Linked DNA regions of Homo sapiens. The protein of the gene in region 2 purifies or fractionates together with the protein of the main gene of each other region. This does not show direct contact. Each region holds a gene or a part of one and is shown on either strand. Other genes may lie near its edges.

Region 1 (7,028 bases), on a different chromosome or scaffold from region 2:
GAGTGCCGAGCTCTTCTGGCCCAGCATGGCCTCCCTTCCCAGCCGCGGCCGGCTGAGCACGACCCCTGCTCACAGCCCCGTCCTGAAACACCCAGCGGCCAAAGGGACCGCAGAGAAACTGGGTATGTGGGCTACCCCACCTTGATGCCCCTGAAAACTGTGGAACTGTCTGGCCTAAGAGAATCTTTTGTTGAGCTAGAGAGGAAGCAGGGGCACCCATCAGCTCTTACTCTATGGGGATGCTATTCTAATGCACTTAGGATATGTGTGCCCTTTCTTATTACGGGAATAAATATGCATATAGACACATCTAGTTTATTACTATTTGAAATGAGTGCACGGCTTGAGACTACCCTGGCAATGCATACTTTTTAACTAACCTTTCCCCGGATGGAGTGACAACAGACCCTCTAAGGGGCTGAATGCCCTCTGGTATGTTTGGGAGCCAGAATTAGGCACCAGGTACATCAAAGGCACAAGTTCACTGTTGCCTTCAGGGCTCTAACTTACCAGGGATTCTGGCCTCAGTGGAGGACATTGTGATGGAAGGAGAAGGTAGATTGACCTGCAGAGTCGGTTAACGTGTGGCACAGCACTTGGGCCAGGACTAACGAGCTGTTTAAAATATTTACGGGAAGACAACTTGGGAGAGGTGATCTTTGCAGTGAGTCCCTAAGTGTCCTGGGTAAGAATAGACCTGGCCTCTTAAGGCACTCCTCTTAAGCAAAGGAGTACCATGGCCATGGTCAGTGGGATCCCACAAATGTTCTTAAATGGGTAAGGCTTTAAGTAGCCAGAGAGTACCCAGCCTACCATTGGCTTCTCCACATCCTAAAACCTGAGACTAATCATGGTCATGGGGACCTCCCTTTTCAGGAATTCTTTTGAGGAGGTGCAGGCTCTGTGGGCCCTAAGTTAACTGTTTCCTCCAAGGGGGTTGTTTATTTCATTTTTCAAAGTAGACAAGTAAATACAATGTTGTCACTTTTTAAAGATGTGATTCTTTTCCAAGTAAGCCAGAGAACCTGTCAAAAGTGCCTAGCTCAGAATATGCACCTGATAGTTTTGAGTAGAGGGTGTGAGGGGCTCCTGTACAGAGTCCCACTGTCATCCTCACCTTCTGAATCCTCTCCCTTCACCATCCTGGTTTGTATTTGTGTCTGAATCCTGGCCCAGTCATTCTGCATGTTCCCACTGTGGGCTGGATCATCTCACATGCCCTGTGGTGAGAATCCTGGGTGTGCAGTGGTATCGGACGTGGGTCCATTTTAGAGAACCTGGAAAGCCTATGCCCCTCCTGAGGAATGGGCAGCTGATGTTTCCCCTCTATTTGGCAGAGAACTCTCCTGGCCATGGGAAGTCGCCTGACCACAGAGGCCGGGTCAGCAGCTTGCTGCACAAGCCCGAGTTCCCTGATGGAGAGATGATGGAAGTCCTCATCTAACTGCCATCCCTGTGGAATTTCAGTACAGAACACTGACAAACAAGGAAAGCGGCAGAGAAAGAAGAAAGACCTAGAAGGTTGTAGATGGGAAATCAGGAATGATTTGAACTGATAAAGATTTCAGACTCATAAGAACACATTTTATAAATGTTAAACACAAAAACTACATGACTGAAGATAGAAGAGAATGCGATGGATTTTATTACACATGGTGGAAGAGAGAAGAGGCGTGTAGGTTTGCAAACAAAGTTAAGAAATAGGAAACTGAATTTTTCATTGTACAGAAAATGTATCTCTTGGGGAGGGCCTGTGTACCCCCATTCTCTGATTATAAACAGATAAACCCAAATGTGGATCATCCTTGGAATACCCCCATTCTCCTTGCCTCTTAGCATGTTTGATTTAAGAAAAGCCTCCAGGAAATCTTGAGAGCCTGTCTTGGCATAATGCAGTGTCACCTGTGCCAACCATGGGGTGTCCCGTGAGTGTGAGTGTGGCAGTGAGAAGAAGCATCGAGGGCGAGGGGAATATGAAAGTTGGTCTTCACCTAATTACCTGTTTGGTTTGGATTTTCAAGAGATGATTGGGCTTCTTAGCTTTTCTGAATTCTGCAGTATTTTCTAAACAGGATAGATTATGATCTCGGTCCCCATCCATCCTAACTTCTGAGTTCATCTCTGTCTCTGCTTTACAGTCTTTAATTTTTTGTTGTTCCTTCATTTTTTTCTTTTTAATAAGACATAGCAGAATTCCTTAGGTATGGGATTTATGAGACCAGTACCTGAACTGTCATCATTCCTACTGTGTTTGATAGTGACCAGTAGGACAAAGCCACGTGCCGACTTCCTGGCTGCTTCACCTTTGCATAGCTGGGTTGCAGCTGCGAACCTCATTCTGACTGTGAACTAAGCAAGCTTTGAGGAGGCAGGAGATTCCGTGGGTCCCTGTGACATATTGCATTAAGATCGTGGCACTTGCTTTTTTGTCTTTCACATCGGCTGTCTTGCAAGGAGCTTGACATTTCCAAATTCCATTGCTCTGTTTGGGGAAGACTTAGGACAGCACTCCAGGAAACAGATGACAATTTACAGACAGTTGTCTCAGTGGTTTCCAGAATCTCACCAGCCTCCCGTATAGCTTCTTGTATTGAGGCTCATGAGCGTATTCACACTCTTTCCTCCCCCGCGCACGCCTCTGCTTGCTCTCGATCAGCATCCAGACCTCCGTGGCACCAGGTTGCCTCTGTTGTGAACTTCTTTTGTAACCTACCAGGCCAGTTGTATATACAGTGTTGTCAGGTTTTTCCGGGTTTCAGTTTTGAGGCAGTTTATTCAAAGTGAGACAGAAGTGCCACGGAAAAGAGGCAGGAGTGTGTTAGGTGGTGGGTCCATTAGACCTCTGCTGTGACATTGCATATTCAGCTCTGCAGACACTGGCTTCCTTTACAAATCTAAGAGATGCTGGATTAGAAAAGAGGAGAAGCTCATCGGGCCATCAGAGAGATGCTCCTACAGGGTCCTGATGTTTTTGTACCTCCAGGTCAGCTGGATCGCTGTTTTCCCAGTTCCCTTTGCTCATGCTTACTTAGAGGAAGAAAGAAAGGGGGGTACCTCTTCCAAGTACCTTCTAAATGAAACACTCAAGAGAGTGCTACTCAGGAAACTTTGCTTGGATCCTAAAATGGACTGGTCTTGGGTGTGTAACCCCGGTGAAGTTATAGCCTCCCCAAATTGAGGTGACAGAAGGAAGACAAGAGGTGTAAGCTGGAGAGGGAAGGGAAGAAATCAGTGGCTTTGGCCAGCCTCTGTGCCACCCAGTACGACAGAGGAGTGGGAACTGGCCCTCTGGGGCTCTGCTTGGCCATAGGCACTGCACATTGTGCCACCTGCTCATCACCTCCTCTAGTCTCACACTGAGCATCGGAGTACCTGTTGTGCAGACAGGAAAACTGAGGAGCTCTGAGAGGCTGAGCATGGAGCTCACCCCATGCCATAGGGTGTGGGAAGAGGGCACAGGAGGCCTCATCCATGGGGGAAAGGGTTGAGGATGGACATGGGTGGGGAGAGGGCATAGACATCCCTTCCTAATCTCTGTTCCCACCACATTTCATAGGAGATGAGTTAGGAGATGACAGCTAACTCTCTTAAGGACATTTTGACCCCAGTTTATGTTGGGGATGGACCAGAAAGGAAAATGTCTAGAGATAGGAAGGTAAATCAACTCTGCCAGCCCCTACCATCAGGTCTGGGCCACCCCAAACTTGGGCTGCCTCCCTTAGACATAGGTTAGAGTGAGAGACCCAGCTGTTTCTCCCGAAGCCTCGTCTTCATGCCCCAGACACCTGATTGCCCCAATCAGGTGTCAGACTTGCTTGCTCTTCGAGGTCCCCCTGAGCTGCCAAGTGTTTTCATTGTAAACAGACACATCGCCATGTTTCAGGGCTTCAACGGCATTGTATTTTGGACTTTGACCGTATTTTTTTTCTCTTAACCTACTGAGACTCTTCCTTAAGAACAGGATCTATAGCTTTAAAATGTCTTCTTCTATGGGAAATTTCCTGCCAAGCCAGGGCACTAAATTCTTTCATCATTAGAGCTTTCCTGAAGTCCGGCCATATACTGAGTACCTGCTCTGAGTTCTGGGCAGCTTACAATATCTTAAACAGATTTTCAGAAAAATAATGCAACTATATTTTCTAGTGTCAACTGTATGCAAACAGTGTGGTAAATACCTTTTAATTAGTCCTCCACCCACCTGGAGTACAGGGGGTGCGTTTATTATTCTGATTTCACTGATGAGGAAATGGGCTCAGAAAGGTTAAGTCCCTTCCTGAAATCTCACAGCCAGGAGAAGCTAGGATGATTTAAAACAAAGTTTGGAGAGGCACTGGGCATAGACCCTGGCTGTACAGCCTCTAACATGCGGCACTGCATCTTGGCAGTCTCTATGCCTGTCTGTGATGTGTGTGTGCACGTGTAACTACACACACACACACACACACACACACACACACACACAGCTATCACACATCTCAGAGCCTAAGAAATAGGACTAAGCCCAGAACTCCTAGAATCACCTATAAATGCTAGGCATAGATGGAAATTATTGTGTTCCACCAGAAGCACAGCTCCAAACTATACCTAAAAAATATTTCTGCACTTCCCAGAGACCTGGACTTCAAACTTTCCCAGTGGAGCCTGATTATAGAACTTGAGGGTCCTATCTCAGGATGAAGGGGAGAGGCCCTGGCTTCACGGGAAGGTATTCCAGCATTGTTCTGCTTCACCCTTGACTGCGTTGTCTGGCAGTTTCTGTGTGCTGCCAGGATATTATATGGAACTGGAGAAGTTGGAGTCAGGTCTCTGAAGCTAGAGTTTCACTAATTAGATGCCTCTGTACATGAGAACTATTACTGTCTGCAGGTCCATATAGCTAAGCTGCCAGGAAAAACACATTATCTTCCAAAACTTTCAGAGCATGTGCAGAACCCTTTCTTAGCGTTTTCTTCTCAGCATTTTCTCTGCCTCCCAGAGGCTGGCAGCCAGTGACACTGCAGAGTTCAGCATGTTCTAACCATGCACGCAGGGCAGGGGCTGCCTTGGCCCTCCTCAGGCTTTCGTTGGGAGAGCAGGCAGTGGTGGAGCCCTTCTGGGTGCAGTCCTCTGGGGTTGCTCTTTGGAACTCATGTATGAGTTTGACTCCACAAGGCTTGGCATGGATACCAAAACAGTTGCAACAAATTAGTTCTGAACCTGGAACAGAGAATTCAGTGCTTCTGTTACTCAGGAAGGAGGTGTTCAGAATGCCCCGTGCAGAGCAGCCAGTCATTACTCTTGTTTGTTCTCACCTGGGTGCGCACCCTCATGATGCAGTGGCTGTAGCACCTTCATGCCAGGTGCTGAGAGAATGGGAAATTCTTCCTCCCCATTGACCTGAGTCCCAGAGACTTAGGGACACAGACTTCAGGTGAGGCTGCGGACCTCAGAAGCAGTGGATAATAGATTGGGGCATTAAAAGCTTTTGAGGCAGGGGGCTCATGTTTTGACTGCAGGGAGTTATGCTGAGCAAAGAGATGTGTTTTTCAAAACCAGGGTTCAAAACCAGTGTCCACGCTGGAGTAAGTGGAGCATGCTTCTCTGTGTTCTCTGAATGATCTTGCACTCCTCTTAAGCAAAGGAGTACCATGACCATAGTCAGTGGGATCCCACAAATGTTCTTAAATGGGTAAGGCTTTAAGTAGCCAGAGAGTATCCAGCCTACCATTGGCTTCTCCACATCCTAAAACCTGAGACAGCCTTGGTATATGCTTTATAAATGTTTCTTTTCTTGTTGTTTAAGTAATTAAAGTGTTTAAAATGTCTTCATTAGATGTGACGATTGTTTAATGAGTTTGCCTCTGACGTGTGGCTCCATGGGAGATAGGCAAAGTAATTAAGAAGTTACCAGAAATTGGTCGGCTGGGGAAATGCAAAAGTTAGCATTTCAGTAGTGAATTTCTCCTGGAACAAATGAGCAATTTTTCCTCTTTCTCTTAAGTAGTATACCCTTTTCTCACTTAGTAATTTAATGGTATATAAAGACATGTGTATAAGTGAGTGCATACATATGAGGTATGACTATAGGGTTGTTTGTGGGAATTTCTTTTCCTAACATACAGAAGATCAAAGTGTTCATCTCACCCCGCCCTCCTTAAAAGGTGTCTTTTGGGAGACTATGTGCTCATTGACTATAGTGCTGCCAAGTAAAAATATCTTGGGAACTCTTCTACTAGAATGGCCTTCAGGGCTTGGCATGTTCCTTTGGTTTACCCTTAGAGATGAGAAATCCTCCTCCTTTGAGGATGGATTTAAGTTCTGGAAATAATCTCAAGTGCTTGATAGCACAGTTGGATGAAAAAAGATGGCAATTAAGGTAAGTTACACCATTTTTGTTTCTAAAAAAATCCCTAAGAAATTTCTTGGAATGAGTCTTTGGCCTCAGAGCCTCTCAAAGTGTCCACTTCAAGGGGGGATCATCCTCATTAGCACACAGATTTTTAAAAATCAATTCTCTTGCCATGCCTCCTATGTGTTCACATCTCTGCATACACTACAGATATAAGTGCATAATCATTCATATAAACATCTGGTAGGTATTCTGTAAAACTGTGTTTACTTTAGTGCATGTTATTGTCATGTTATGATGTGACTGGGGTGTTTCTTTGTCATGAAACTTTGCTTCTTCACAGAATTAGAATACTGCTCTCTCTATATTGAACTACATATACAGCGTTTTCTTGTATCAGCCCCCAAAGTCTGGATGCCCGGTGTTGTGTTTACATGTGATTGTGCCTAGGAGTCTGTTCACATAGAGACACCTGTAAGTATTTATTACAAAACGGAATGTAAGCAAATATATCCACATTGGTTTTATTTGAATCAAGGTGTTTTTTTGTTTTTTGTTTTTTTTCCTTTTGAGGAGGAACAGGGAGCCTCCTCCTCCATGAGCACTTACAGAATTGTGTAAAATTCTGTGAAACAGTGGTAAGCATGGGCACCCGATTTCAGCTGTCCTGCTGCCGCTGCCCTCCAACCTGCTCTGTGTG
Region 2 (7,028 bases):
TACCCCACCCCTATTCCCATCCCCCACCACGTCCCCTTTCCCATTACCATTTGCACTCCCAAACCATCCACGCCCCATCCCCCACCAGCACTCCTCTCCTCTTCAACCCCCCACCTCTCTCATATCGCCATCTCCCACCCCAACAACCCGGGCCCTTGTACCAACCTCACCCCTCCCACCCCCATCCACACTGAATCACGTTCCGCTTCCGCTTTCAACCCACCCCCAAAAACCCGCCCCCTCCATCGACCTCACCCCTCCCACCCCCATCCACGCTGAATCTGATTTCCGCTTCCTCTTTCAACCCAAGAAAGCCCCAGGGGCCCGGATGTGATGCCACTGACTTGCGCATTGGGGGTTAGAGAGAAGCGAGCTGCTCTGTCTGACCAGCAGCTTGGGATTGGCGGAGGGAAGCGGGCCAGGCCCTGTGAGGAGTCAAGGTGAGACGCTGAGGGAGGACTCAGGAGGCCCCCACCCCAGATAGACGACCCCAAATAATCCCGCACCACTCCTGCTACCAGCCGTGGGCCACCCGTGGGCGGACTTCTGAGTCTGGGGCGCCCTCCACCCCACTGCGTCTGAAGTCGCATGGGACTCTGGAGTCCGAGCTTGGGGTGGTTAGTGTAAGACTAGTGAGGGCAGGCTCTACGAGGCATCAACCTCAGGACCCTAAGAGAGGGCCAAGCGTACCCCACCCCTATTTCTATCCCCCACCGCCTCCCCTTTCCCATTACTATTTGCACTCCCAAACCCATCCGCGCCCCTATCCCCCACCAGCACTCCTATCCTCAACCCCGCACCTCTCTCACACCGCCATCTCCCACCCCAAAAACTGGGGCCCCTCCACCAACCTCACCCCTCCCACCCCCATGGATGCTGAATTGGGTTGCGCTTCCGCTTTCAACCCACCCCCAAAAACCCGCCCCCTCCACCGACCTCACCCCTCCCACCCCCTTCCACGCTGAATCGGGTTTCCGCTTCCGCTTTCAACCCAAGAAAGTCCCAGGTGCCCGGATGTGATGCCACTGACTTGCGCATTGGGGGTTAGAGAGAAGCGAGCTGCTCTGACCAGCCGCTTGGGATTGGCGGAGGGAAGCGGGCCAGGCCCTGTGAGGAGTCAAGGTGAGATGCTGAGGGAGGACTCAGGAGGCCCCCACCCCAGATAGACGACCCCAAATAATCCCGCACCACTCCTGCTACCAGCCGTGGGCCACCTGTGGGCGGACTTCTGAGTCTGGGGCGCCCACCACCCCACTGCCTCTGAAGTCGCAGAGGACTCTGGAGTCAGAGCTTAGGGTGTTTAGTGTAAGACTAGTGAGGCCAGGCTCTGCCAGGCATCAATCTCAGGACCGTAAGAGAGGGCTAAGCGTACCCCACCCCTATTCCCATCCCCCATCACGTCCCCTTTCCCATTACCATTTGCACTCCTAAACCCATCCGCGCCCCCATCCCCCACCAGCACTCCTCCTCGACCCCCCACCTCTGTCATACCGCCATCTGCCACCCCAAAAACCGGGGCCCCTCCACCAACCTCACCCCTCCCACCCCCATCCACGCTGAATCGGGTTCCGCTTCCGCTTTCAACCCACTCCCAAAAACCCGCCCCCTCCACCGACCTCCCCCCCACCCCCATCCACGCTGAATCGTGTTTCCGCTTCCGCTTTCAACCCAAGAAAGCCTCAGGGGCCCGGATGTGATGCCACTGACTTGCGCATTGGGGGTTAGAGAGAAGCGAGCTGCTGTCTGACCAGCAGCTTGGGATTGGTGGAAGGAAGCAGGCCAGGCCCTGTGAGGAGTCAAGGTGAGACGCTGAGGAGGACTCAGGAGGCCACCACCCCAGATAGAAGACCCCAAATAATCCCGCACCACTCCTACCAGCCGTGGGCCACCTGTGGGCGGACTTCTGAGCTTGGGGCGCCCACCACCCCACTGCCTCTGAAGTCGCAGGGGACTCTGGAGTCAGAGCTTGGGGTGTTTAGTGTAAGACTAGTGAGGCCAGGCTCTGCCGGGCATCAATCTCAGGACCCTAAGAGAGGGCTAAGCGTACCCCACCCCTATTCCCATCCCCCACCACGTCCCCTTTCCCATTACCATTTGCACTCCTAAACCCATCCCCGCCCCCATCCCCCACCAGCACTCCTCCTCGACCCCCCACCTCTGTCATACCGCCATCTGCCACCCCAAAAACCGGGGCCCCTCCACCAACCTCACCCCTCCCACCCCCATCCACGCTGAATCGGGTTCCGCTTCCGCTTTCAACCCACTCCCAAAAACCCGCCCCCTCCACCGACCTCCCCCCCACCCCCATCCACGCTGAATCGTGTTTCCGCTTCCGCTTTCAACCCAAGAAAGCCTCAGGGGCCCGGATGTGATGCCACTGACTTGCGCATTGGGGGTTAGAGAGAAGCGAGCTGCTGTCTGACCAGCAGCTTGGGATTGGTGGAAGGAAGCAGGCCAGGCCCTGTGAGGAGTCAAGGTGAGACGCTGAGGAGGACTCAGGAGGCCACCACCCCAGATAGACGACCCCAAATAATCCCGCACCACTCCTACCTGCCGTGGGCCACCTGTGGGCGGACTTCTGAGCTTGGGGCGCCCACCACCCCACTGCCTCTGAAGTCGCATGGGACTCTGGAGTCAGAGCTTGGGGTGTTTAGTGTAAGACTAGTGAGGCCAGGCTCTGCCGGGCATCAATCTCAGGACCCTAAGAGAGGGCTAAGCGTACCCCACCCCTATTCCCATCCCCCACCACGTCCCCTTTCCCATTACCATTTGCACTCCCAAACCATCCACGCCCCATCCCCCACCAGCACTCCTCTCCTCTTCAACCCCCCACCTCTCTCATACCGCCATCTCCCACCCCAACAACCCGGGCCCTTGTACCAACCTCACCCCTCCCACCCCCATCCACACTGAATCACGTTCCGCTTCCGCTTTCAACCCACCCCCAAAAACCCGCCCCCTCCACCGACCTCACCCTTCCCACCCCCATCCACGCTGAATCTGATTTCTGGTTTCTCTTTCAACCCAAGAAAGCCCCAGGGGCCCGGATGTGATGCCACTGACTTGCGCATTCGGGGTTAGAGAGAAGCGAGCTGCTCTGTGACCAGCCGCTTGGGATTGGTGGAGGGAAGCGGGCCAGGCCCTGTGAGGAGTCAAGGTGAGACGCTGAGGGAGGACTCAGGAGGCCCCCACCCCAGATAGACGACCCCAAATAATCCCGCACCACTCCTGCTACCAGCCGTGGGCCACCCGTGGGCTGACTTCTGAGTCTGGGGCGCCCTCCACCCCACTGCGTCTGAAGTCACATGGGACTCTGGAGTCCGAGCTTGGGGTGGTTAGTGTAAGACTAGTGAGGGCAGGCTCTACGAGGCATCAACCTCAGGACCCTAAGAGAGGGCTAAGCGTACCCCACCCCCATTCCCATCCCCCACCCCCTCCCCTTTCCCATTACTATTTGCACTCCCAAACCCATCCGCGCCCCCATCCCCCACCAGGCTCCTATCCTCCTCAACCCCGCACCTCTCTCACACCACCATCTCCCACCCCAAAACCCGGGCCCCTCCACCAACCTCACCTCTCCCACCCCCATCCACACTGAATCAGGTTCTGCTTCCGCTTTCAACCCACCCCCAAAACGCGCCCCCTCCACCGACCTCACTCCTCCCACCCCCATCCACGCTGAATCGGGTTCTGCTTCCGCTTTCAACCCAAGAAAGCCGCAGGTGCCGGAATGTGATGCCACTGACTTGCGCATTGGGGGTTAGAGAAAAGCGAGCTGCTCTGTCTGACCAGCAGCTTGGGACTGGTGGAGGGAAGCGGGCCAGGCCCTGTGAGGAGTCAAGGTGAGACGCTGAGGGAGGACTCAGGAGGCCCCCACCGCAGATAGACAATCCCAAATAATCCCGAACCACTCATGCTCCCAGCCCTGGGCCACTCGTGGGGGGACTTCTGAGTCTGGGGCGCCCACCACCCCACTGCCTCTGAAGTCGCACGGGACTCTGCAGTCAGAGCTTGGGGTGATCAGTGCAAGACTGGTGAGGGCAGGCTCTGCCAGGCATCAACCTCAGGACTGTAAGAGAGGGCCGAGGGTCCCCCACCCCCATTCCCATCCCCCTTCCCATTCCCATCCACACTCCCAACCCCATCTACACCCTATCCCCCACCAGCACCCCTATCCTCCCCAAACCCCCACTACCCTTATGTCCTCATCCCCCACCCCAACACCACTATCCCCATCCAGGTTGAATCGCATTCCGTTTCTGCTTTCAACCCAGGGAAGCTCCAGGTTCCTGGATGTGATGCCAGTGACTTGTGCATTGGGGGTTAGAGAGACGCTAGCTTCTCAGTCTGACAGGCAGCTTGGGATTGGCAGAGGGAAGCCGGTCCAGGCTCTGTGAGGTGGCATAGTGAGAAGCTGAGGGAGAAGTCGGGAGGCCCTCTCCACCCCAGATAGACGACCCCAAATAATCCGGCACCCCTCCTGCTTCCAGTCCTGGGCCACCCGTGGGCGGACTTCTGAGTCTGGGACGCCCACCACCCCACTGCCGCTGAAGCCGCAGGGGACTATGGAGTCAGAGCTTGGTGTGATCAGTGCAGGACTGGTGGGGGTAGGCTCTGCCAGGCATCAACGTCAGGACCCTAGGAGAGGGCTGAGTGTCCCCCACCCCCATTCCTATCCCCTACCCCTTTCCCATCTGCACTCCCTACCCCATCTGTACCCCCATTCCCCACCTGTGCCCCTATCCTCCCCAACCCCCCAACCAGCCTCATACCCCCCTCCCCCACCCCTACCTTCATCCCCATCAGCGCAGCATCCGGTTCCACCCCTGCTTTCAATCCAGGCAAGCCCTGGGTGGCCGGATGTGATGCCACTGACTTGTGAATTGAGGGTTAGAGAGAAGTGAGTTTCTGGGTCTGAAGGGTGGCTTGAGATCGGCAGAGGGAAGGTGGCCCAGGCTTTGTGAAGAGGCAAAGTGAGACTCTGAGGGAGGATTCAGGAAACCCCTATCCCTGATAGAGGGTCCCAGCCCTGGACTACCCCGCGGAGGCTGACTTCTCAGACTGGGCTGCTCCCCACCTCCGCCCCCTTCGCAACGCGTTTGTTTAAGCCACAGGGGACTCTGGAGTCAGAGGTTGGTGTGATCAGGGAAGGGCTGGTTAGGAGAGGGCATGGCCCAGGCCCTGCCAGGAATCAAAGTCAGAAACCTGAGAGGGAACTGAGGTCCCCCAAGATCCTAGTCTAACCCCCACTCCCACAAATCCGCTGCCATTTCGCTGCTCCATTTCCCATTCCTTGCCCTCCACCCTCACCAGGCAGAATCCAGTTCCCCTTCTGCTATCAATCCAGGGAAACCCCAGGCTTGGTGCTGGGATGTTTTTTGGGGGTCAGAGAATCAAGGGCATAGTCCTGAGGGGCCAGTTGAGATCGGCTGAGGGGAGCGGGCCCAAGCTCTGTGGCGAGGCAAGGTGAGACTCTGAGGAAGGACTGAGGAGGCCCCCACCCAAGATAGAGGAACCCAAATAATCCAGCGCAGCTCCTGCTGCCAGTCCTGGACCACCCGGGGGAAGACTTCTCAGGCTAGGCCATCCCAGCTCCCACTGCCACTAAAGCTACAGGGGACTCTAGAGTCAAGAGCTTGGTGTGCCCAAGGCAGGGCCCAGGCTCTGCCTGGCATCGGGGTCAGGACCTTGAGAGGGAACTGAGGGCGCTACACCCCCACCCCATCCGCATTCCAACATGCCCAGCCCCATCCCCAACTCCGTTTTGCAGAATCCATTTTTTCCCCTGCAGTCAACCCCGGGAAGACCTGGGAATGGTCAGGCACTCGGATCTTGACATCCACATCGAGGGCTGAAGGAGGGAGAGGGTTTGGTATCATGAGCAGAGCCTCAGGGTAGCAGAGGGAGGACCCTGGCCCTCCTGGGAGATGAGGAAGGCCTCAGGAGACCCAGCACCCCAAGGCAGGGAGCCCACCCCACCCCGTCTGAGAATGAGGTGCCTCCTCTTTTAGCCTCAGGAATCCAAGGGATGGCAACTCAGGTCAGCAGAGGGGTGGGTTCCAAGCCCTTCCAGGATCAAGGAAAGGAAGACGAGGGAGGATTCAGGGGGCCTTGCATTCCAGATCAGTGGAGACCTGGGCCCTGGGAGGTCCTGGGCAAGGTAGCCACCTGTAGCTCATACTTCCTGCATCTTCGAGGTCACAGAGAGGAGAGGGCTATGGTCTGAGGGGTGGTACTTCAGGTCCGCAGAGGGAGGAGTCCCAGGATCTACAGGACCCAAGGTGTGCCACACTTCACGAGGAATGGGGATACCTGTGGCTCAGAAAGACGGGACCCCACAGAGTCTGGCTGTCCCCTGTTCTTAGCTCAGGGGGGACCAGAGGAGGGATGGCCCTATGTGCCAATTTCACTTGTTCCACAGGCAGGAAGTTGGGGAACCTTCAGGGAGATGAGGTTTTGGAGTAAAGGGGCAATGTTTGCTCATCTCAGGGGGTTGGGGGTTGAGGAAGGGCAGGCCCTGTCAGGAGCAAACATGAGTACCCCACAGGAGGCCATCAGAACCCTCACCCCAGAACCAAAGGGGTCAGCCCTGGGCACCCCACACAGGGGTGACAGGATGTGGCTCCTTCTCATTTCTGATTCCAGATCTCAGTGAGGTGAGGACCTTGTTCTCAGAGGGTGACTCAGGTCACCACAGGGACCCCCATCTGGTCTACAGACACAGTGGTCCCAGGATCTGCCAAGAGTCCTGGTGAGGAATGTGAGGGAGGATTGAGGGTACCACAGGGCCAGAACGCAGATGATGACCCCACAGAAATCAGCCCTGCTCCTGTTGTCACCCCAGAGAGCATGGGCTTGGCTTTCTGCTGAGGTCCCTCTCTTATCCTGGGATCACTGGTGTCACGGAGTGGGAGGCCTTGGTCTGAGGGGGCTGCACCCAGGTCAGTAGAGGGAGGGTCCCAGGCTCTGCCAGGAGTTGAGGTGAGGACCAAGCAGGCTCCGCATCCAGGACACATGGGTTCCAATGA

What was found. Proteins that work in one complex are often made in the same cells at the same time.
Region 1: the proteins of MAGEA4 (region 2) and AMOTL1 purify together in Homo sapiens (affinity purification with mass spectrometry; 4 studies listed by BioGRID and IntAct, with this or other methods). This does not show direct contact.

The regions. Positions count from the first base shown.
Region 1 is NC_000011.10:94,869,352-94,876,379, forward strand, and holds part of AMOTL1 (angiomotin-like protein 1), read left to right. Parts: coding exon 1-122; intron 123-1,337; coding exon 1,338-1,444; 3' UTR 1,445-7,028. UniProt on the Homo sapiens protein: Inhibits the Wnt/beta-catenin signaling pathway, probably by recruiting CTNNB1 to recycling endosomes and hence preventing its translocation to the nucleus.
Region 2 is NC_000023.11:151,915,881-151,922,908, forward strand, and holds part of MAGEA4 (melanoma-associated antigen 4), read left to right. Parts: intron 1-356; exon of another isoform or gene 357-440; intron 441-1,044; exon of another isoform or gene 1,045-1,122; intron 1,123-2,407; exon of another isoform or gene 2,408-2,476; intron 2,477-3,029; exon of another isoform or gene 3,030-3,157; intron 3,158-3,712; exon of another isoform or gene 3,713-3,842; intron 3,843-6,645; exon of another isoform or gene 6,646-6,751; intron 6,752-7,028. UniProt on the Homo sapiens protein: Regulates cell proliferation through the inhibition of cell cycle arrest at the G1 phase. Also negatively regulates p53-mediated apoptosis.